Linked DNA regions of Homo sapiens: regions 1 and 3 are each linked to region 2. Evidence: fine-mapped expression QTL. A gene starts in region 2. Each other region holds a variant in brackets. All regions are shown on one strand. Distances are between the middles of the regions.

Region 1 (8,179 bases), 42 kb before region 2:
ACTTTGGGAAGCCAAGGTGGGTGGATTATTTGAGGTTAGGAGTTTGAGACCAGCCTGGCCAACATGGTGAAACCCCATCTCTACTAAAAATACAAAAAAAAAAAAAAAAAAAGCCAGGCATGGTGGCAGGCACCTGTAATCCCAGCTACTCAGGAGGCTGAGGCAGGAGAATTGCTTGAACCCAGGAGGCGAAGGTTGCAGTGAGCCGAGATCATGCCACTGCACTCCAGCCTGGGCAACAGAGCAAGACTCCGTCTCAAAAAAAAAAAAAAAAAAAAAAGAGAGAGAAAGAATACTACATGCCAGGCACTGTGCCAAGGATTTATATTCACAATCTCATAAAAGCCCTGGGACAACCCTATAAAGTAGAAATTATCTTAATTTCTAAACAAGGAATGTTGTGCTCAGAAAGGTTAAGTGATTTCCCAAGGATATACAGCTAACAAGCAGCAGAGCCGGGATCTCAAACCAGGGAGTCTGAATCCAAAGCCTGCTGCCTTGGGAAGGCGCATATGTGTACAAGTGTGTACTCCTCCCTCCTGGCTTCAACCCAAGCAACTCTGCTTTGCTCTGCTTTGTATGAAGGGAGTTCTGGGTTCCCTTCTCTGAAAATGTTGTAAGAGCACAATCAACAACTTGGGCTCTTCCTATAAGACCCCTAAGCCCAAAGGAACATCACTCAGAGAAGAGAGGTCCCTCTGGCCCAAGTCTACTGACCTGAGATGCTGTACAAAATCACATCCTGGACACAGGGAACAAGTGTGAATGGTAAGCCAAGGGTGGCCTTCAGAACCTCAGCTCTCAGCATAGAGTACATTAGCTACAGCTAGAAGGATTGTTTAGTCATTGTGACAGCTGGCAGTCCAACAAATGCAGACAAGAGAGGCAGAGCCTTTAAAAGAATAGGTTGGGTATGGTGGCTCAAGCCTGTAATCCCAGCACTTTGAGGGGCTGAGGCAGGAGGATCACTTAAGCCCAGGAGTTTGAGACCAGCCTGGGCAACATAAGGAGATCCCGTCACTACAAAAAAATAAAAAATTAGCCAGGTGTGGTGGCATGTGCCTGTAGTTTCAGCTACTCAGGAGGCTGAGGCAGGAGGATTACTTGAGCCCAGGAGTTTGAGGCTGCAGTGAGCTATGATTGTGCCACTTCACTCCAGCCTGGGTAACAGAGCAAGACTGTCTCAAAAAACAACAACAACAATGAAAAACACATAAACAAAGCAGTCTGTCTGGGATTATTCAAGGGAGAAGTCATTGCTCAATATAATAGAAAGAAAATGAGGCTGGGCCTGGTGGCTCATGCCTGTAATCCCAGTACTTTGGGAGGCCAAGGTGGGCAGATCACCTGAGATCAGGAGTTTGAAACCAGCCTGGCCAACGTGGTGAAACCCTGTCTCTACTAAAAATATAAAAATTAGCTGGGCATGGTGGAGCGCACCTGTAATCTCAGCTACTCGGGAGGCTGAGGCAGGAGAATCACTTGAACCCGGGAGATGGAGATTGCAGTGAGCCAAGACTGCGCTACTGCACTCCAGCCTGGGTGACAGAATGACAAAGAGGAGGAGAGGAGAGGAGGGGAGAGGAGAGGGGAGGGGGGAGGGGAGGAGATGGGAAGGGAGAGGGGAGGAGATGGGAGGGGAGAGGGGAGGAGATGGGAGGGGAGAGGGGAGGAGATGGGAGGGGAGGGGGGAGAGGGGAGGAGATGGGAGAGGGAGGGGAGAAGGGAGGGGGAGGGGAGGGGAGGAAGGAAAGAAGGAAGGAAGGAGGGAAGGAAGGAGGGAGGGAGGGAAGGAAGGAAGGGAGGGAGGGAGGGAAGGAAGGAAGGGAGGGAGGGAGGGAGGGAAGGAAATAAATGAGATTTTTCTCATGAGGGTCAGAATTCCACCACGTACTGGCTGCATGGTATGATTTTGAGCAAATTACTCAATCTCTAGCATTTACACATCCTGATAGTAGAGGTGTTTCTCCTTTCTTAGTCTCTCTGTGTCTCTAAACCTCAGTACCTACCCTCAATAGGCACTCCATGAATGAAAGAAAGGCAAATGCAAAAGCCCATTCAGGGTCTGCCTGCCCTCCAGACTCATAAGATATCAAAGAGCTAGGCAGAGGTAGGCTGAATATGTAGAAGAGAAATTGGCTGTCACTTGGGGTGACAGATCAATTAAGGAAGGATCACTAAGATGGGTTAGGACCTCCCTGCCAGTCACTAGAAAGGTGACCACTCACCTCCCATGAACTGCGATGGCAGCAATGCCAGTCCTCTCTATCCGCTTCACAAGGCTCAGGGTATCTTCTAGCTGAGGAGGAGGACCACACAGGATGGTTACTGAAGCTCCAGAAGGAGCAGCTGCTGCCTCCTAAAGTAGGCTCAGCTCTACTCTCTCCTCCAAGCCTAATTTAGCACCTCAAGAATCGTTCACAAACCTAAATCCAACATCACCAGAGAGAATGGACCTTCATATGTAACACACCATCCTTACCGATGGCAGGATGCGAATCTTGCAGGTCACAGGTCTGCGTGTCCCTTTAACAAGAGTGCTGAGGATCTGCAGAAAGGAAAACACAAGAGCACCTATGTCTTCTGGAACAAACCATCACTCTGCCTGTACTAATTAACTCCGCTACAGGCTGTGCATTCCGGTGGCATGAACAGTTTGCATATGTGTGAATGCATGTGTGTGTCTGTTACACACATACACACATAAGCTCCATGAGGCAAGGGACCTGCCTTTGTTCTATACTGGAGCCCCAGCACCTGCCTGGCACCTAGTGGTATACACATATTTGTCAAATATACTGAATGAGTGAGTGAATGGGTACGCGTGTACACCTGTGTGCAGCTCACTGAGCCTTTGCCAGGACAAATACCAGAATTATCTGGAGAACTGAAGAAATACACACTCTTGAATTCCACACTATTATTTCCTGAGTCAGTCTCTAGGGGAAGGGCTTAGGAATGTGTGTTTTCAAAAGGCTCTGCCCAACACACTCCAGCCCGTCCTCAGAATCATTCTGAGGCCTAGCCTTGGTTAAGAACACACGGCTAAAAAAAAAAAAAAAGTAAGAAAAAAAGAACACATAGCTAACTGGGTGTGGTGGTTTATGCCTGTAATCCCAACACTTTGAGAGGCTGAGGTGGGAAGATTGCTTGAAGCCAGGAGTTTGAGACCAGCCTGGGCAACACAGCAAGACCCTGTTTCCTTTTTGTTTGTTTGTTTGTTTGTTTTGTTTTGAGACAGGGTCTGGCTCTGTTTCCCAGGCTAGAGTGCAGTGGCACAATCTTGGCTCACTGTAACCTCTGCCTCCCTAGCTCAAGCCATCCTCCCACTTCAGCCTCCAGAGTAGCTGGGACCACCATGTTGGCCAGGCTGGTCTCGAACTCCTGAGCTCAAGCAATCCACCTGTTTTATCCTCCCAAAGTCCTGGGATGACAGGCTTGAGCCACTGCACCTAGCCCATCCCTGTTTCTATTAAAAAAAAAAAAAGCGGGGGGG[C/GC]AGACAGCTTCTTTCCTGGGTGAAGGGAATGTTCCCTAAGTGTTGTTCCAGGACTTACAGGGTGAGGGAACAGGAAGGCTCTTAAGGGGGGCCTGCATTCCTCTTTAGGGCAGTCAGACATACATGAGTGAAACTGGCAAAGGAAAAGACAACATACTCATAAGATAAGCACATATTTAAAAGTGCTTATCACATAGCAATTGCAAAAGATTTCAAAGAAAGATCAAGAAGTCACGCAGGAAAGTGACAGGGAGGTAGCAAGACCAGACCACACAAGAATCAGAGATAGAGAGGTGTAGATGACACTGCATGTCTGTGTCATTGCTATCTTCTTCCCTCATCAGAAATTTCAGGCCAGGCAAGCTGGAGGAAAGATGATCCCAAGAACCCTCTTCCAAGAACTGGATCTCTGCCTAGCAGAGCAGGGGGATATCTAGGTGGCTGCTGCCAGTCTTGATTCTAGACAGGCGGGGGCAGCAGAGAGCCAGGTTGCAAAAACCAGTAGTGGAGGCCTATCAGGGACAGGATGAAGCAGGCCATTCCAGAAGACATCAGATCAAGAGGCTGGACTGACAGACAGTTCATGAGCAAGACAGGACCTGCTGGCCCAAATGCCAGGGACTGGCAGGAAGGAACAGTCTCTAGGTGCTGCTCCAGGAGGCAGACTTGGCCTGAGGTCTTAGGGTCACCCTGGCAGGCCTTAAAGAGGCACTTACATTTTAAGGGCGGGACTGACAGGTTCATCAAGAAATACAATAAAAATTCTCATTCTAGTCCCATCCTTCATGCTCAGAGCAACATCTCTAAAAGGTTCCATTACAAGTGCTCACTTAGAATCCTCTGACATTTGGTGATTTAAGCAACACCAGCTGGTCTGATCCAATTCTCTGTCTTGTAGAACTTCCTTTTGCTATTTTATCCAAGTAGCTCTCAGTACTTTCTTCAGTATTTCTGTGTGTTTCATGTGTGTGTTAAGGACTAGGAAGGAAATTAGGTAACCAAAAACCCTAGGCACTTGCAAGGGTCACACTGAGGGGAAATGGCAACTAGAGATTGTCTTCTGGCCAGGCTCTAGCATGACACTCTCCTGGACACCAACTCTCCAGATCCAAGTCTTTGGGGAGAAAGAATGAGAGACAAGTCCATATTTGAGCAGAGGAACAGCACATCTACCTACAAGCAGGCTTGCCTCAATAGACCCACTGGCCAACTGAAGAAAAGCAGTCTCCTTCACTCCCCTGGTTTCTGGGAGGCAGCAGATGAGGATAGGAAAGCATAGGCCTGGAAAGCACTGAGACCTGAGTTCATGTCCTGGCCCTGCCAATTGTCAGCCATGGCCCAAGTACAGTGTACACAAGGGGGATGCCCTGCGCACACCTGTAATCCCAGCACTTTTGGAGGCCAGATCACCTGAGGTTAGGTGTTCAAGGCCAGCCTGAACAACATGGTGAAACCCCGTACCTACTAAAAATACAAAAATTAGCCGGGTGTTGTGGTGCATGCCTGTAATCTCAGCTATTCAGAGGCTGAGGCAGGAGAATCACTTGAACCCAGGAGGTGGATGTTGCAGTGAGCTGAGATCGCACCACTGCACTCCAGCCTGGGCAGCAGAGCAAGACTCCCTCTCAAAATAAATAAATAAATATTTAAAAAAATAAAATAAAACTGAGGTTCTTAATCCAGGGAGCATATATCAGAGTTACCTGGTAGAAGCTTTCTCAAAGAGATTGATATCCCACTCTCCACCCCTACTCACCCCAAGGGTCTGCAGAATTCTCAACAGATAGCATCCTTTATTTCTAACTGGGGTAAAATATATATAACATGAAATTTGCCATCTTAAACATTTTTAAGTGTATAATTCAGTGGCATTAATTACATTCACAATGTTGTACAACCACCAATGTTATGTATTTCCAAAGTTTTTCATAACCCCAAACAAGAATCTTGAGAAAATTTCTAGAGGTGGTCTTGAGATACTCCCACAGATGGAACCACGGGCCTAAAACGCCAAGCCTGGAAGGACCCGCAAAGCTCTCACCCAGGTCACCCAGCTTGCCAACACAGTCTGGACCCGAATTGAATCCAGCCCCTACACCTAAGCCACATCTGGCTTTGTTGTGGAAGCCTGCAACCTCCCTACCATGGGGCAAACCCCATCTATCAGTCCAACCTGGCCCATCTGAGTACCCAACCAGAGAAGTAGTGAAATGAACTAAGCTTCTGAGGTTGAGTGTATCTCTGCTGCCTCATGGATGAAATCTGCCTTATTCAAAGAGGGGCAGTAGAGAGGACAGAGCCAACAGCCTGGGTCTGAGAAGAGAGGAGGCTGGAGGATAACAAAAATGCCTGTGTGCTCATGTTGTGAACCACATCCTCCCTGCTGGGGCCCCCTCTCCTAGGTGTGGAAACCAATTTGACATCCAAGATGTCTACTTCCACTCCACCCTGCACACAAGTGTCTTAACTGGAGATTTCCAAGTTGAGGTGCCTATTGACCTGACACTTATAAACTATACCCAGGCACCTTGAACCTGAGATGCTACTGGAGAGGGTGCTGACACTAGGAGTCAGAAGAGACTATAGTTCACAAGCTGGCTCTGCCTGCCACTTATTTACTATATGATCTTTTTTTTTTTTTTTTTTTTTTGAGACGGAGTCTTGCTCTGTCGCCCAGGCTGGAGTGCAGTGGCACGATCTCTGCTCACTGCAACCTCTGCCTCCCGGGTTTATGCCATTCTCCTGCCTCAGCCTCCTGAGTAGCTGGGACCACAGGCACCCGCCACCACGCCCAGCTAATTTTTTGTATTTTTAGTAGAGACTGGGTTTCACCGTGTTAGCCAGAATGGTCTCGATCTCCTGACCTTGTGATCTGCCCGCCTCAGCCTCCCAAAGTGCTGGGATTACAGGCATGAGCCACCACGCCCGGCCTACTATATGATCTTAAGCAAATTATTTTCTCTCTCTGTGCTTTAGTCTATTGTCCTTGATCAAATGGAGATAACTGCCAATCCTATCTACTTCAAGGGGTTTCAGGATCAAATGAAAGGCACATTATGGCTGGGCACAGTGGCTCACATCTGTAATCCCAGCACTTTGGGAGGCCAAGATGGGCAGATCACCTGAGGTCAGGAGTTCAAGACCAGCGTGGCCAACATGACAAAACCCCATCTCTACTAAAAATACAAAAATTAGCCAGGCGTCGTCGTGGGCGCCTGTAATCCCAGCTACTCAGGAGGTTGAGGCAGAAGAATTGCTTGAAACCTGGAGGCAGAGGTTGCAGTGAGCTGAGATTGTGCCACTGCACTCCAGCCTGGGTGACAGAGCAAGACTCTGTCTCAAAAAAAAGAAAGGCACATTATACAGGTGCACTATAGATAGAGTATCTCTGGCTGCACATGGGAAAAACGAGAAGGCATGTAGCCAGCAAGCACAGTGGTCTTCCTATGTCCCAGAGACAGTGGGGCTGGAGGAACATGCAGGGTTGGGCTGCTGGCACAGCAACCATGCAGCTCTCATTGGCAATGATGGCAGCTCTCATTGGTGATGCCTAAGTCCCAAGTCGCTCTAGCCTCTGGGAAGCAGGATGAGGCTTAAAGCCCAGACAGGGAAGTAGCGATAGAGAATGAAAAGGAAAACAAAGGAGCTAAAAGGAAAGAGCTGGCAGACTGGGAGAGGAACACAAACCTGTCCCCAGGGCCTCATTAAGCTAGCCTACAGAATCACCAAAGAAAGGGGAACAGAGAGAGACTAACTTCAGCTTGCCTCCTCTGACCCTGGCCCGGGCTTCTCTCCAAGGGCTGGGGTAGACTCTTTCAGGACATAGGGGACCCACTGCTCCTCTCATCAAGCCCCCTGGGAGAGGCCAATCCACCCACACACATACAAACACATATGGCCACTGAGCCCGTCCTCACCACAGGTGGGCTGGCCTCTGCTCTCAAGACCTTCCCAGAAGGGAGACAGGAAATACAGAGGAGGTTCTCTGTGAGTCCTCAGGACCCCTGGCTCTTCATTGACATGTCTCTTGCTCTGGGCTTTTTAGGAACATCAAGGCTGCTGTAGGCTGGCTCGGGGGTTCCCAAACTTAGCTGCATGTCAAAATCACTGGAAAATTTTTTGGAAATCGCTAGGCCTCAGGGAGAGAAACTGGGTGGACATCAGTAAATCTGGTATTGGTGGAAGGAGGCGTTCTAGACAATTCTAGTTTGGAGCTGTGTTTGAGGACCCCTGCTTTCACTCGTGGAGGACTTACCTTCTCAATCTTGTCAGGGTCTGACAGCAGGGCAGCTCCCATTCCTCCCTAAGGAGAAACACACAAAAGGTCTTCTTACATCTGGGAGACACTATGGCCCTCTCCATGGGATGGGGTCTGGCAACTGAGCGTCACCCCGGCACTCACTTCCAAGGGACCAAGGCCCACTGGCAACCGGCACTTCTTTTAAACAAGTAGGAGGGCAGCAGTATCTGTGCCCATAACATCTGGGACTGAAGTGTGATAATTTTTTTTCTTTTTTTTTTGAGACAGATTCTCGCTCTGTCACCCAGGCTGGAGTGCAGTGGCGCAATCTCGGCTCACTGCAACCTCCACCTCCCCAGTTCAAGTGATTCTCCTTCCTCTGCATCCTGAGTAGCCAGGATTGCAGGCATGCACAACCACACCTAGCTAATTTTTTAATATAT
Region 2 (8,179 bases):
CACTCTAGCCTGGGCAACAAGAGCAAAACTCCATCTCCAAAAAAAAAAAAAAACAAGAAGTTAATGGACCAAGTGCAACAAGAGCTATGATCCACTCCATGCTTCAGTCACAGAAGAACTCTATCCCAGCCAAAGTGCATTTAAAGTGCTTTGTTATCACTCAAGTTTGGTTTTAGAGGAGACGAATGACTACTCCAATCTCTGGCTTACCCAGTAAAGGACTACAAGCCCTTTGGCCAACTTGCATGGAGCCATCACTTGAGTGAACAAGATTCACATAAGAAAGCAACAGAAGAGGTTGAGCCCAATTCTGGATACTGATTAGGAAATAATCTGCAGGCAACAAGGATTCATGAATGGCTTTTGAGTCAAAGGGTAACATGGCCATAGCTGTGCTTTTTTTTTTTTTTTTTTTTTCAGATAGACTCTTGCTCTATCACCCAGTCTGGAATGCAATGGCACAATCTCAGGTCACTGCAACCTCCGCCTCCCGGGTTCAAGCAATTCTTCCACTTCAGCCTCCCGAGTAGCTGGGATTACAGGTGCCTGCCACCATGCTCAGCTAATTTTTGTATTTTTGTAAAGAAAGGGTTTCACCACGTTTGCCAGACTGGTCTTGAACTCCTGACCTCGTGATCTGCCCGCCTTGGCCTCTCAAAGTGCTGGGATTACAGGCGTGAGCCACCACACCAGGCCTAGCTGTGCTTTAATAACATCACTCGGGAAACAGAAGGTAGACCAGAGGGTAAAAAACAAAGAGCAGGTAGGGAGCTGGATGAGAAGGAAGGTCAAAGGGTCCAGGAATACTATAGTGATAATGACTGAAAATATGATTACCTGCGCACAGCCCTGCTACAGGTGGGAAAATGGAGGAACAATAAAGTAATACCAATAGCACTTTTTATTGCTGTAATGCTTTGCAATTCCCAAAGTGCTTCATTTATAACTGTGATTCTCAAGCCTAGTTACATCTGGAGAGGTTTCTAAAAATACCAATTTCTCGGCTGGGCACAATGGCTCACATCTGTAATCCCAGCACTTCGGGAGGCCAAGGCAGGCAGATCAACTGAGGTCAGGAGTTCGAGATCAGCCTGGTCAAAATGGCAAAACCTCATCTCTACTAAAAATACAGAAATTAGCCGGGTTTGGTAGCACGTGCCTGTAATCCCACCTACTGGGGTGGCTGAGGCAGAAGAATCACTTGAACCTGGGAGGCAGAGGTTACAGTGAGTCGAGATGGCACCACTGAAGTCTAGCCTGGGTGACAGAGCAAGACCTTGTCTAGGCCTTAACCCAAATCAATTAAATCAGAATGTAAACTCCACAAGGGCAGGGATTTTGGCTGTTTTCCTCACTACCAATGCCTGGCACATGCGTGGTGCTCAGGAAGTATTTGTTGAATGAATGATTGAATGAATGAATGAATATACCATTATTAACTGAGATCCAAGGAACACACCAAGCTCCTGATCTCAGGAGCTTAGATTTTTTTTCACAATAAGGATACCTTTCCTATTTCTAAAGCACTACTTATAAAAATATCTCAGAAAACATTTAGAAGTTAATCAATGTCCTCTGTGAGTGAGGGGGAAAAAAGGTAGGCAGTGTCTAGTGATGTGACAAGAAGAAATTAGTGGCCACGGACACAGACAGGCTTAGGCAAGCTCTAACTCCTGTGAAATTTTGAGGTAATCATATTGTAAGGACTCAAGCATAATGAGAAAACAACTATATATTAACCAGCTACCCTACCCTGGATATTTGAACAAAACCCAAAAACCCAAATGCATATACATACCTATTATTTTGTTCTGATACTTCAGGATTACTTTGATATATGTGTTCTGGCTTTGTACAGAGTAATTCTTTGTTTGATATCTGAAAAACAGTGGCACATGGAAATGGATGAAACCTGTTGGGACAAACATCCAAGGGACCTTTTTTTTTTTTTTTTGAGACAGAGTCTCGCCCTGTCGCCCAGGCTGGAGTGCAATGGTGCGATCTCGGCTCACTGCAACAACCTCCGCCTCCCGGGTTCAAACGATTATCCTGCCTCAGCCTCCCGAGTAGCTGGGATTACAGGCATGAGCCTGGCCCCAAGGAACTATTTGGATAAGGAGAAGCCCTGAGTTTGGAAAGAATCATAAAAGTAGCATAGAATTGGGCCGGGCACAGCGGCTCACACCTGTAATCTCAGCACTTTGGGAGACCAAGGTGGGCAAATCATGAGGTCAGGAGTTTGAGACCAGCCTGCCCAACGTAGTGAAACCCTGTCTCTATTAAAAATACAAAAATTAGCTGGGAGTGGTAGCGCACACCTCTAATCCCAGCTACTCAGATGGCTGATGCAGGAGAATCCCTTGAACCCAGAAGGCAGAGACTGCAGTGAGCTGACATCGCACCACTGTACTCCAGCCTGGGCAACACAGTGAGACTGTCTATAAAAAAAAAAAAAAAAAAAGTATCCAGCCATTGTCAAATATGGTGGGAGGGAAAGGGCAAAATCACCCTTGTTTTAGAACCACTACCCTATCCAATGACTGTTCATTCACCCATCACTACTCAAAACTTTCTCTTCCTACTTCCAGATATTTTCTTGTGGAGAAAAAAAGCCTCTCTTCCTCTGATTTATCTGGTAACTCTCCAGAAAGTCTAATTGTGTAGCACAAGGGTAGAGTGTACTTAAAATTGTGAAAGTTTTTCCTCATACTATTCCAAAAAAAGCAAAGTTTTTATCTTTTCATTGGTATTTGATGAAACTAAAACGTTTTCTCCAGATGTTACGAACCTCCCAGAGAGTTAATCCATAAATATTTACCTTATCTCCCACCCCAGGCACTGCAAATTACAGAAAAGATCTGACACCCATTTTCCAGATCTGTTCAAGAAGTATCTGTTGGGCATGGTGGCTCACGCTTATAATCCCATCACTTTGGGAGGCCGAGGTGGGAAGATCGCTTGAGGCCAGGAGTTCGAGACCAGCCAGGCCTACATAGTGAAACCCTGTCTCTACTAAAAACAGAAAAAATTAGCCGGGCGTGGGTGGTGTACGGCTGTAGTCTCAGCTACTTGGGAGGCAGAGGCAGGAGAATCACCTGAACCCAGGAGGTGGAGGTTGCAGTGAGCCGAGATTGCGCCACTGCACTCCAGCCTGGGTGACAGAACGAGACTGTGTCTCAGAAAAAAAAAAAAAAAAAGTGACTCGTATAGTTCTTGTTTTTACAACCCGAATATCTGAATTCAGGTAAAATATTCTGCCTGACCAGGGCTACATGATAAGCCACGTACTTGATCACTTTGTAGGGTCGCAGCACCCTTCTTACTACTATTTTAGGTAATTCAGGTTTCTGACGGGGAAGCCAGTGGAGCTGAGCGGGCTGCAAGAGGGGTGGGTTCTGGATGAGAAGTTGGGACGCGTGACGAGGGAGTAGAGAGTGAACCTTGGCTTAAAAGGAAGGAAAATAACTGTGAAGAAAAGATGACCCAACTTGAAATAAAACCTGAAGACCTTATCTCCCACTTGAGAGAGAGAAGAAGCTGAAAGCCATCAGCTTGCACTCTGGGCTCACAGACAGAGAGGGTGAGGGGTTGAGCCCAGATCTATGACTTCAGACCCCTGTCTCGGCCCCTAGGCCTGATCATTCATTCAAACTCTCAATAAACACGGATTACCAGACCCTGCGCAGGGAACACATCTGGGAAAACAGCTGCAACCTCGGATACCAGCACGGGACAAGCTATCTCAGGGCAATGAGGAACAACTAAAGAGAATCCCAGGAACCAGGTAACCAATCGCCAGAAGCCCTCCGCCCTCATGGTCCATTGGGTCAAGGCCCCACTGCCGCCTCGTATCGCCAGCCTCCAGTCCTGCCTCCACGACGCGCCCTTCCCCAAGGCTGGCCGGGTCTGGATGTCGCCATCCCCTATTCGGAGCTACAGACCTCGCAGCTGAACTCTTAAAAAGAACCTCGCTTCTTCCTCACGGTGCTCCAGCTCCACACACCGTACTGAGCCTCGCCAGCCACCGTACGCGAGGTCGCGGCGCGTCCGTGACGTCACTGATGTGCGCTTCTCCCGCACTAAGGGAAACATGGCTCTAACGCGGCCGGTGCGGCTCTTTTCCCTCGTGACTCGGTTGCTCCTGGCGCCGCGACGGGGCCTCACGGTCCGCAGTCCCGACGAACCCCTGCCGGTGGTGCGCATCCCAGTGGCTCTACAGCGGCAGTTGGAACAGCGGCAGAGCAGGCGGCGGAACCTCCCGAGGCCGGTGCTGGTTCGACCCGGACCGCTGCTGGTTTCGGCGCGGCGGCCGGAGTTGAACCAGCCGGCGCGCCTCACACTGGGCCGTTGGGAGCGCGCGCCGCTAGCCTCTCAAGGCTGGAAGAGTCGACGCGCGCGTCGGGACCACTTCTCCATCGAGCGCGCGCAACAGGAGGCGCCAGCGGTGCGAAAGCTCTCGTCTAAGGGCAGCTTTGCTGACCTGGGCCTGGAGCCCCGTGTGCTGCACGCACTACAGGAGGCTGCGCCTGAAGTCGTTCAGCCCACAACCGTGCAGTCTAGCACCATCCCCTCACTACTTCGCGGCCGCCATGTCGTTTGCGCCGCAGAAACCGGCAGTGGCAAGACTCTCAGCTACCTCCTGCCGCTGCTTCAACGGCTCTTGGGCCAGCCAAGCCTGGACTCCCTTCCTATCCCCGCGCCCCGAGGCCTGGTCCTTGTTCCTTCCCGAGAATTGGCCCAACAGGTGCGGGCTGTGGCCCAACCCTTGGGCCGCTCCTTGGGCCTGCTGGTGCGGGACCTGGAGGGAGGCCACGGCATGCGTAGGATCAGGCTGCAGCTGTCCAGACAGCCTTCAGCAGATGTGCTTGTGGCCACTCCAGGGGCTCTGTGGAAGGCCCTGAAAAGTCGACTGATCAGTCTGGAGCAACTCTCCTTCTTGGTGTTGGATGAGGCAGACACACTGCTGGATGAAAGCTTCCTGGAACTGGTGGACTACATCTTAGAGAAGAGCCACATAGCAGAAGGCCCAGCTGACTTGGAAGACCCCTTCAATCCCAAAGCTCAGTTAGTGCTGGTAGGAGCCACATTTCCCGAAGGTGTAGGCCAGTTGCTGAATAAAGTCGCCAGCCCAGATGCTGTCACCACCATCACCAGCTCCAAGCTCCACTGTATCATGCCTCATGTGAAACAGACATTTCTGAGACTGAAGGGAGCAGATAAGGTGGCCGAGCTGGTGCACATCCTCAAGCATCGTGACAGAGCAGAAAGGACTGGTCCCTCAGGAACTGTTCTGGTGTTCTGTAATAGCTCCAGCACTGTGAACTGGCTGGGATATATTCTGGATGACCACAAAATCCAACACCTAAGGTTGCAGGGGCAAATGCCAGCCTTGATGAGGGTAGGAATCTTCCAGTCCTTCCAGAAGAGCTCCCGAGACATACTTCTCTGCACAGACATAGCCTCTCGGGGCCTGGACAGCACTGGTGTGGAGCTGGTTGTCAATTATGATTTCCCCCCAACGCTGCAAGATTACATCCACAGAGCAGGGAGAGTGGGCCGTGTGGGGAGCGAGGTGCCAGGCACCGTCATCAGTTTTGTGACCCATCCCTGGGATGTGAGCCTGGTTCAGAAGATTGAGCTGGCGGCTCGCCGAAGGAGAAGTCTTCCAGGACTAGCATCCTCGGTGAAAGAGCCTTTGCCCCAAGCAACCTGATTTTGACAAATCTGATTAAAATGTGATGCTAGAACAGGGATCTTTCCCAGTATCTTGAGTGGGTGACCACACTTGTCAGTGGGAGGCTCTGGGCTGCCCTGTCGGCTCCTTGAGGGCGGGATGAACTGCTTTGTGACTTGGAAAGGTACGCTGCTGGCCAGCATTGGAGAAGAAGCTGCTGAGCATGGCTTTCTGTAGTCTTTAGCAAGACACAAGTGGATTTTGACTTTGTATCATGTCATGATTTCTAACAATAAATGATGTTTTTATGTGCCTCCCCTAAGAATAATTAGCACCGGGGCGGAATTCAGTAGTTTCTGAGGATTCATACACCAAACCTCCACATCTAGGACAAAGGCTCTTTCAGTTGATGTTTTCATTTATAAACATTTAGTTTGTATTTCCTGCCCCCAAAAAGGTATCCATTAAGCCCCCAGGGAAAGGAAAGGAAAGGAAATGTGACTAGCAGTAGACAGAGTTACTCTCTAACAATGCCCAAGACAAACGGGCGTCTTGGCGAAATCTCTGGAAGGTACTGGCAGAAAAGTAAAGGGTAGACGAACACAGAAGTTTTGCTTGTACATTTTCAGGTTCTGCCTTCTATCCCAACTCGGTAGCCGAGAAAGAGGAGAGATGATTAAACGGTTTTACAAAACTGGAAAAATAACCATATAGCATTTTCTTTATATATATATATACGTATATATATATATATATATATATATATACATACGTATATATATATATACACATACATATATATACGTATATATATATATGTATATATATATATACGTGTATATATATATACGTGTATATATATATGTGTATATATATATATACACAAAAAAAAATTACAAAAATCAACCCGGCGTGGTGGCACGCGCCTGTAGTCCCAGCTACTCGGGAGGCTGAGGCAGGAGAATCACTTGAACCTGGGAGGCGGAGGTTGCAGTGAGCCAAGATCATACCACTACACTCCAGCCTAGGGGACAGAGCAAGACTCCATCTCAAAAAAAAAAAAAAAAAAAAGCCGGGTGTGGTGGCTCACGCCTGTAATGCCAGCACTTTGGGAGGCTGAGGCAGGAGGATCACCTGAGGTCAGGAGTTTAAGACCAGCCTGGTAAACATGCGAAACCCCATCTCTATTAAAAATACAAAAAAATTAGCTGAATGTGGTGGTGCACGCCTGTAATCCCAAATACTTGGGAGGCTGAGGCACAAGAATGGCTTGAATTCTGGAGGCGAAGGTTTCAGTGAGCCAAAATTGCACTTCTGCACTCCAGCCTGGGTGACAGAGCTGATATTCTGTCTCAAAAAAAATAACAGAATCCTGAGCCCCACTCCAGATGGGATTAAGCTCTCTAAAGTTTGACCTGAGAATACTCTTTGTAAACTCCCCCAGGTGATACTTGGGCCCTCCCAAATTGATAAACCATTTGTCTATGCTGTACTGCCTTTCCCAGAGTCCCAGCAAATTCCTGTAAGGCTTTGTACCCCCACAAGACAAGAGGGATGCTTCCGGACAAGTACTCTCTCCAGAGCCTTGGAGAATCTGAGTGATCTCATGCTAGCCCTCCTGCCAGAACAGACTTCCCAGGAACCATCCCCTTGATATTTTACCTCCTACCACTCCCTGCAGGCCATCAATTAGCACCACACTAAAGCAACTTATGAGAGAAGGTGCTATGATTCTCAACCGGGGTGACCCAGTCTCCAAAGATCGGGCCGTCTCTACCTCCTGGGCATATCCCCTCTGCAATAACCCCACTAAATAAATGTCCCATGTTTGCTTTTTCAAGGCCAGTAATAGGGAGACCTCTCCTTAAGGTCATCTCTCTTTGGTAGGAAGTTCTTGGCCACACTGAACCAAAGGCTGCTCCTAGTGTGGTCCTGATCAGGCTAAGGGCAGAGTTGCCTGTTTCCTTTGAGTAGGACCAAATCGCCTTTTTTTAAATATAAAAAAAATAGACACAAGGTCTAGCTATGTTACCCACGCTGGTCTCAAATTCCTGGGCTCAAGAGATACTCCTGCCTCCACCTCGCAAAGTGCTAGGATTACAGGTGTGAGCCGCCACGCCTGGCCCTAATGACCTTTTGGTACCTCTCCACAGTGCTGACCTGGGCTGCTGCTGGGAGCTAAACCTCATCCTTTCATAGTGATAAGATTGTCATTGTTTGCCTATTTAAAGAGAGGGCAGTGTAATGATAAGGTTATGATTTTGTATTGTTATCTTTTTTTTTTTTTTTGAAACAGAGTCTTAACTCTGTCACCCAGGCTGGAGTGCAGTGGCACAATCTCGGCTCACTGCAACCTCTGCCTCCCAAGTTCAAGCAATTCTCGGGCCTCAGCCTCCTGAGTAGCTGGGATTAGAGGTGCACACCACCATGCCCGGCTAGTTTTTATATTTTTAGTAGAGACAGAGTTTTGCCATGTTGGCCAGGCTGGTTGTGAACTCCTGGCCT
Region 3 (8,179 bases), 240 kb before region 2:
TTTTAAAAATTACCAAATGTCAAGTGTGGGTTAGTAAGAGCCACAGACACTCAGGTTTTTTCCATAGACCTCAGTGGTTACTCAGAAGAAATACTGGGCAAGTAACCTGAGAAAACCGCTCTTGGTAGTGCTGGCTTATGGGAGGGAAAATACAAAGGCCAACCTATACCCTTCTCCTCTAAAGAATAAAAACCATAAACCCCTGGGAAAGGGCAGCAAACTCTGTCACTCCTGAGGCAGCTGGGGCAGGATAAAAGAAAAAAAAAACCTCTATGCCTGGAGGAGGGGTAGGAAATTCTGGGCAAGACCACCGGAGGTGTCTTTCTCCTGGGAAAAGGGCAGGAGCACCCAGAAAGATCCACTCCCAAGACCCAGGGAAACAAACAGGGCCTGCTTAAGACTGAGGCTGAACCAGACAACAGAGAAATCCCTACTCCCTACCACCAGGTTAGCAAGCACCCAGGAACAAGCAACAGTAGTCTACCACTGAGACTGTGCACTGAGGCATAGGTGCACAGAGAAATCCTAAAGCTGAGGGTGGCTGGACGCAGTGGCTTACACCTGTAATCTCAGCTACTCTGGAGGCTAAGGCTGGAGGAACTTGAGGCCAAGAGTTCGAGACTAGCCTGGGCAACATAGCAAGACCCCATCTCTACAAAAAAAAATTAAAAAGTAGCCAGGCATGATGGCACACGCCTATAGCCCCAGCTATTTACTCAGAAAGCTAAGAGGTAAGTTTGAGTTCAGGAGTTGGGAGGCTGCAGTGAACCATGATGGCACTACGGGCACTCCAGCCTTGGTGACAGAGTGAGATGACCGAGTGAGACCTTTTTTCTTTCTTTTTTTTTTTTTTGAGACAGAGTCTTGCTTTGTCACGCAGGCTGCAGTGCAGTGGTACAATCTTGGCTCACTGTAACCTCCACCTCCTGGGTTCGAGGGATTCTCCTGCCTCAGCCTCCCAAGTAGCTGGGACTACAGGTGTGCACTACCATGCCTGGCTAATAAACTGAGGGTATGGATGGAGGATAACCACTGAGAAAAAGCCTCCCTCCTGCAAACCAACCGTAAGCTGGCAAGGAAACATGAGAAGAATTTGAAGTCATTGGTGCACCTAACGTAACCATAGCAACAATAACACCCAAACACTACTGTCTCCTGACTAGGAGTTCAAACTCCCATACAAACAGTCTAGCAAAGAAGAGCTGTACCCAGTTCCCAAAATAAATACTATATACCTCAGTCTCTACTGTTCCACACACGGTATCTGGCAATCAGTAACAAGTTACAAGCAACATAAAAAAAGCAAGAAAAACAACCCACTATCAAGAGGAAAAGTAATCAATAGGACCATATTGAGAGATGACCCAGATAATGGAAACATCAAACAAGGAATTTAAAATAATTGTGTTTGATACATTTAAGGTTCTACTGAAAAAGTTGAACAGCATGCAGAAACAAATGTGGAACTTTAGCAGTGAGATGAAAACCAAAAGGGTCAAAATGGAGAAAGTGAAAAAATAGAACAGAACATCAACCTGTGGGGCAATATCAAATAGCCTAGGTAAATATTTTTTAATACGTATTTTTGCTCTTTTTTTTTTTAGACGGAGTTTCGCTCGTTGCCCACGCTGGAGTGCAATGACGCGATCTTGGCTCACTGCAACCTCCGCCTCCTGGGTTCAAGCTATTCTCCTGCCTCAGCTTTCCGAGTAGCTGGGATTACAGGCATGCGCCACCACACCCAGCTAATTTTTTGTATTTAGTAGAGACGGGGTTTCACCATATTGGTCAGGCTGGTCTCGGACTCCTGGGACCTCAGGTGATCCGCCTGCCTCGGCTTCCCAAAGTGCTGGGATTACAGGCGTGAGCCACCACACCCAGCCAACAAAAAAATTTTTAAAAATTTTAAATTCCTGCAGTCTCCTGCAGCAGGTAATAAAGGAATTTAACAGACTACCAAAATTTCCCCATGAAAATTTAACCACGAAACTGCCACAAGCAATTTTTGGAATAAATGAATTTATCACAATTCAATTACATCAGAAAACGGGATGAAAGGGGGGAAAAGCTCGATTACAAAGGAAGTTTTACAAAGTGGATTTGAAACCAAAATTTTTGTAATGACTAAAGGAAAAAATGCTATTGAGAATGTTTGGAAAAACTCAAAACCATTTTTACTGTGTACTCTCACACCACAATAATCAACACAGAAGAGTTCTGTGACCAAATGCCGGAGGGGGAGGGTTCCCCACTAACAAGCAATCATTTCTCCCCAGGGACACCAGCTGAGTGTCCTCCAGTTCAATCCCAACACTATCTACCTGGAGACAGCATCAGATCCCACAGCAGAAGGGCTCAGTTCCACAAGACTGCCCCTCCCCAACAGGATACCTGGCACAAATCCAAGCCTCCTGAACTTCTGACCGAACTGTTTCAAGTTGGGGCTCCCAAGACTCCTCTTTCAGTTCAATTAATTTGCTAGAGCGGCTCACAGAACTCAGAGAAACACTTACTTACCTTTACTTGTATATTATAAAGGCTATTACAAAGGATACAGATGAAGAGGTTTGCAGAGCCACATATGGGGGAAGGGTCACAGACTTTCCTTGTCCTCCCAGGGAGAAGTACCATCCAGGAACCTCCACATGTCCAGCTATCCGGAAGCTCCCCAAACCCCCAGCCTCTTGGGTTTTTATAGAGGCTTCATTACATAGGCATGAGTGATTAAGCCACTGGCCATTAGTGATCAACTTAACCTCACCCTCCTCCTTTCTCCCCTCCCCGGAGGTTGGGGGTAGGGCTCAAAGTCCCAACCCTCTAATCCTGACTTGGTCTTTCCAGTGACCAGCCCCCATCCTGAAGCTTTCTAGGGGCTGCCAGCCACCAGCCATCAGCATACAAAAAGACATTACTTTGATCTTTCTAAGTATTTTAGGAGTTGTATGCTAGGAAACGGGCTGAAGACCAAAAAATATTTTGCTATATCACAGAGAAATACATCAAAATCTTTTTATTCCCCCCTCTGGTTGAATCAAAATCTTAACTATGGTGAAAACACAGAGGACTTTTTCTTATAAAACTCTCTGAGTTATGGCCAGGCGCGGTGTCTCACACCTGTAATCCCAGCATTTTGGGAGGCTGAGGCGGGTGGATCGCCTGAGGTCAGGAGTTCGGGACCAGCCTGGCCAACATAGTGAAACCCTATCTCTGCTAAAAATACAAAAAATTGTCCGGGCATGGTGGTGGGCACCTGTAATCCCAGTTACTCGGGAGGTTGAGGCATGAGAATCACTTGAACCCGGGAGGTGGAGGTTACAGTGAGCCAAGATCGCACCATTGCACTCCGCCAGGGCAATGAGAGCGAAACTCCTTCTCAAAAAAAAAAAAAAAAAAAAAAAAATCCACCACAATTGGGAGGCTGAGACGGGCAGATTGCCTGAGCTCAGGAGTTCGTGACCAGCCTGGCCAACATGGTAAAGCCCCGTCTCTACTAAAAATACAATAATTAGCTGGGCATGGTGGCGGGCGCCTGTAATCCCAGCTACTTGGGAGGCTGAGGCAGGAGAATCGCTTGAATCCAGGAGGCAGAGGTTGCAGTGAGCAGAGATTGCGCCACCACACCCCAGCCTGGGTGACAGAGTGAGACACTGTCTCCAAAAAAAAAGAAAAAACCCACCACAATTACTCTTTATAAAGAATTGTAATATAAATAAATGTATAATTTATTTTTATAATAAATTACAGTGTTATTTAATATGTAATACTAAAGAGTTGTTAATTATGTGTAAGCCATTCTGTTTACTAGTATTGTATTCACACTGTATACAAGTAAAAACTCTTTGTAAATCACACAAACAAAAGAAAAGACAGCGCAACAATATTCACCTGTCAAGAAATACGCGAACATCACACTTTCATAAGCCACCTCCTCATAAATGGGTCCAGTACTGAGAAGGAAATGAAGTCCCCTGCAGCAAGGCCTAATTCCACTTGTCTGCCTCGGCCACATAAACTCTGCAACAAAGAGTGGGAGGGAACTGATCAAAAAATGAACTCTTTTAACCTGAGAAAGCTGATTTAAATATATATATAT[ATG/G]TAATTATTTTTAATTAACCAAGAAAGCAGCAGAATGATATTTCCTTGTAAAATCTAAATTTTACATGCCCGGCAGGGGCAGTCCTAATTACTAGCAGGTTCCATGACACCCACAGGGTGGGTATAACTGAAGTAGCCAGCCCAAACCTGTCAGAGAACTGGCCTTGTCACATTAAATCATGTAAGTCTAGGCAGCTCTGGGGCCCCAGGTCCCGTGGGCACCGTTTACATAACTTTTTTTCTTTTTTTTTGGAGATGGAGTCTCGCTCTGTTGCCCAGGCTAGAGTGCAATGGCGCAATCTTGGCTCACTGCAACCTCCGCCTCCCGGGTTCAAGCCATTCTCCTGCCTCAGCCTCCCGAGTAGGTGGGACTACAGGTGCCCACCACCACACCTGGCTCAATTTTTGTATTTTTAGTAGAGACGGGATTTCACCATGTTAGCCAGGATGGTCTCGATCTCCTGACCCCGTGATCCGCCTGCCTCGGCCTCCCAAAGTGCTGGGATTACAGGACTGAGCCACCGCGCCCGGCCTGCATAACTTTTTTAGAAACTAATATACATCCAAGAAATTACAGCAGGAAGCACAAAGGTCAGGAAATTTCTTCTACTAAGAAGTTCCAGGGAGATGGGGATCATAAAACCGGTATATGCAATAAAAATACATCCACGGCCAAATAGGGAAGGAGGACAAGGAGAGGAAGAGAGGAGAAAATCAGGCTGGTGGTTTTCCACACACTTGCCAGGAAAATAAACTCCAGTGTAACGACTTGAATAACGATCTGAGATCAAAGTTGGGAAGCAAAAGCCGTCTGCGCAGCACACATGGGACCTGAGTAATGCAGGCAGCCTGGGCAGGTCCCCAAAAGGCCTCACCGCCACCAAAAAGAGGTGGAACTGATATAAGGAAGTACTCACAGCCTTTCAAGTCTGCTCCTCCCAGATCTGAAATCTGGGAGCAGTTCTGAGAGACAAGCCCCGGATGGCTGGGCACTGAACAGCCGCCCTGCGAGATGAGCTGCCCTGGCTTTTTCCCCTATCAAGGGCAGAGACTGAATTCTTTTTAACTGTGTCACCAAGCCCAGGGCATACAAGAGGTACTCAAAAACGTGTTCGCCGACACCCTGATTCCTATTTATACTGACCATTACACAACATGTTTGCTTAGAGCCCAGCAAAGAATTTTCAGAATGTTTCACGTCTATCTCCCCACATTCAGGAGAGATAGTCACACAAGATGACAGGCTATAGGGACGCTCAAAAGAGCCATAATCACCAGGGGCACGCGGGTTCCCCAGCGCCAGCAGCCCAACGCTCCAGGCTCCAGCACGCCACAAAACCTTGCGGCATTCTCTAAAGTAAAAGGACTGATTTTAAAATGATAATCGTCATTCTTGCGACAGCCCCAGGAAGCCTGGCTCCTGAGGTCCTGAGCCCGCGTCTTTCTTTGCCCCACCGCGGCCGCCACACAGCACAGGTTCTCCGTCCTGCAGTCGGAGGCGCAGTCACAGCCCCACTCAGGGTCACCGTCGCACAGTCTCACGCTCGCGGCGCGGCCCGCGCACTCAGCGTCCCGGTCACCCTCGCACCTGGGGTTTCCCTCTCCACACACACCCCCGGTCTCCCTCACACTCGCCGCGTCGCCAGCACACCCCAAGACTGGCTCCCTCGCGGTCACCATCAGCCTCCGGGGCTCGCACCCATACAGCGTTTCTCCCACACTCGGCCCTCACGCTCGAGGTCCCTCTCTCCTCGTGGCGCCCCCCCTCACCCGCAGCGCCTCTCGCGCGGCCCCGATCGGCCAGCCCCGCGCTGTTTCTGGGCCGCATCCCGCTCCCGACGGCGGCAGCGAAGACCCACAGGGTTCGGCTCCCACAGAACGCGGCCCAGCCCCGGCCCCGCTCCCGGCGCGCCCGCCCATGGCCCAGCCCGTTACCTCCCAGTGGCCCGGCGCCGCCAGGATGCTCGGTCGCGCCGCCGCCGCCGCGGCAGCTCAGGCCCCGCCCCGCCACGTCACCCGCCGCCGGATCGCGACAGCGCGCGCCGCGTCGGGACACAGTTCCGTGCGGGGCCAGCTGGCGGCGGCGCTTCCGGGCCCCCGTGGCCGCCACGGCCTGGCCGGTACGGGGTCCGCCGGCCCAGAACGTGAGCGTGGACGCCAGACAGCCCCCAGCTGCCTCGTCAGGGCTCGAGCAGCCCGTGAACTGGGCCCGGCCACGCTCGCCGCCCTGGAGTTAGATGGGGCCTCCGAGGGCGTCCACAGCGGACATTCCCGCGGGGAGCTCTCATCGGCCCCCGCACCCCGTTCCTATCTCGCACTTGACCTGGGCCCGACGCCCAGGGCGCCCCCTACAGCTCACACAGGGATCCAAACGGCCTCCGCCGCCGGGCCACTGCCACTCGCAGTCTAGGAACCCCAGGAAGACACACACTCTGGGGACTTGTCCAAACACACGCACAGCTCAGACTCGTAGCCCTTGAGGCCCCCGCACCCACAAAGAAACTGCAGGCTCCCTTTGCCAACCCCAGGCCTCCCTGGGGCTCTGTCCTCATCTTCCCAAGAGGGCTGCCACCCCTCTTGGGGGAGCTGCACCTCCTGCCCCCCCTCTTGGGGGAGCTGCACCTCCTGCCCCCTTCCCCTCCCTCTGTTTGCTCCTCCATCTTTCTCTCGAGTTCCTTTTCCTCTGGTGGCTCTGGGGCTCTCTGTCTAGAGCCTCCTGACCTCATGGGCGCCTGAGCCCTCCTCCGAAATTTCCTGTCCACACCTCAAGCACTGACTTTCTCCAGGGCCCTGGAATCTTTTCCCCCAGCCTTATGACCACAAGTACACGTCCTCTGGTTCCAGACCATACCCAAGACCCTGCTCCCTGCCACCCAGTGACAGGGACCCAGCCAGAGATGGGTAGCACCTCAGACCCTTCCTCCCCACTCCTCCCACGGCCTATACCTCGTTTTCTTCTCCCCAGCCACAACGGCTTCTCAATCCCTATCCTGCTCCCCTTACCCCATCTCCACAGAGTAGGGGATGCTCCTAGAATACAGATTGCGATGACTTTGTATCTCCCCTGCCTAAAACCCTTCCATTCTCCTCTCTGCAGGCCTGGGATGACAATACTTGAGGAATCCTCGCTGGTGCTGCCCTCCTGCCCTCTGCTTGGAACCCCTCCCCTAAGTGTCAGTGAGTGGACGTATATATTTGGATCAATCGAGTTGCACCCTTTGCCTCCCAGATCAGTTCCTCCGGCCTCCCTGGCTGAGCAGAAGGACAGCTCTGGACACTTGTGTCAGCACCCAGCCCACGTGTCCCTGCCACAGCTTCATATAAGGTATGCCGGCTCAGCCGGGCCTGGTGGCTCACGCCTGTAATCCTACAACTTTGGGAGGCTGAGGCAGGCAGATCACCTTGAGGTCAGGAGTTCGAGACCAGCCTGACCAACATGGAGAAACCCCGTCTCTACTAAAAATACAAAATTAGCCGAGTGTGGTGGCACATGCCTGTAATCGCAGCTACTCAGGAGGCTGAGGCAGGAGAATCGCTTTAACCCAGGAGGCAGAGGTTGCAGTAAGCCGAGATCGCGCCATTGCACTCCAGCCTGGGCAATAAGAGCGAAAGTCTATCTCAAAAAAAAAAAAAAAAAAACACCATATGCCAGCTCCGTCTGGCTTTGCAGTCTCATACCCAGTTACGTAGCCCATCAGCTGAAAGCCCAATGTACACCACACCCTGAATCAGATGTTCTCCAACACCATCAGTGTTCCTCAGGACCACCCTGCAGGATACATTTATTTGTAACCATTCTTTTCTTTTGCTTTTAGAGATCTTGCTGTTGCCCAGGCTGGAGTGCAATGGCTATTCACAGGTGTGATCATAGCTCACTGCAGCCTCGAACTCCTGGTTTCAAGCGATCTTCCTGCCTCAGCTTCCTACTTGGGACTACAGATTTATTTCATCTTTTTTTTTTTTTTTGAGATGTATCTCGCTCTGTCTTGCTCAGGCTGGAGTGCAGTGGTGCCATCTTGGCTCACTGCAGCCTCCGCCTCCCAGGTTCCAGTGATTCTCCTGTCTCGGCCTCCAGAGTAGCTAG

Which allele goes with the higher level. Alleles are on the strand shown, and positions count from the first base shown. SD is a standard deviation of normalised expression in the study named.
For the expression in monocytes after LPS of the gene that starts at base 4,061 in region 2, GC is the high allele of the variant in region 1 and C is the other (moderate effect, 0.57 SD a copy in Quach 2016).
For the expression in monocytes of the gene that starts at base 4,061 in region 2, ATG is the low allele of the variant in region 3 and G is the other (large effect, 1.3 SD a copy in BLUEPRINT).

Evidence for each region.
Region 1: its variant is fine-mapped to the expression of DDX28 in monocytes after LPS (Quach 2016, PIP 0.95).
Region 3: its variant is fine-mapped to the expression of DDX28 in monocytes (BLUEPRINT, PIP 0.95).

Annotation. Positions count from the first base shown.
Region 1 is chr16:68,060,686-68,068,864 of GRCh38, reverse strand. DUS2 (dihydrouridine synthase 2) reads right to left here. Exons shown (of 17, transcript NM_017803.5): 8 at 7,752-7,799; 9 at 2,483-2,548; 10 at 2,229-2,299. Among named protein-coding and RNA genes, the nearest start is that of NFATC3, 21 kb to the left of the region's middle. RefSeq lists an enhancer at 7,313-7,362. The variant C/GC (reference allele first, on the strand shown) is at 3,497.
Region 2 is chr16:68,019,114-68,027,292 of GRCh38, reverse strand. DDX28 (DEAD-box helicase 28) reads left to right here and starts at 4,061. Exons shown (of 1, transcript NM_018380.4): 1 at 4,061-6,377. The coding sequence starts at 4,091. The coding sequence ends at 5,713. It overlaps DUS2 (dihydrouridine synthase 2), which reads right to left and starts at 4,009. Exons shown (of 17, transcript NM_017803.5): 1 at 3,942-4,009; 2 at 1,799-1,878. RefSeq lists enhancers at 3,909-4,148, 3,859-4,609, 4,610-5,360.
Region 3 is chr16:68,262,428-68,270,606 of GRCh38, reverse strand. SLC7A6 (solute carrier family 7 member 6) reads right to left here and starts at 6,081. Exons shown (of 11, transcript NM_003983.6): 1 at 6,031-6,081; 2 at 3,886-4,014. It overlaps LOC124903704 (a long non-coding RNA gene), which reads left to right and starts at 6,150. Exons shown (of 3, transcript XR_007065096.1): 1 at 6,150-6,239; 2 at 7,193-7,420; 3 at 7,911-7,946. RefSeq lists an enhancer at 4,344-5,543 and a silencer at 5,916-6,195. The variant ATG/G (reference allele first, on the strand shown) is at 4,094.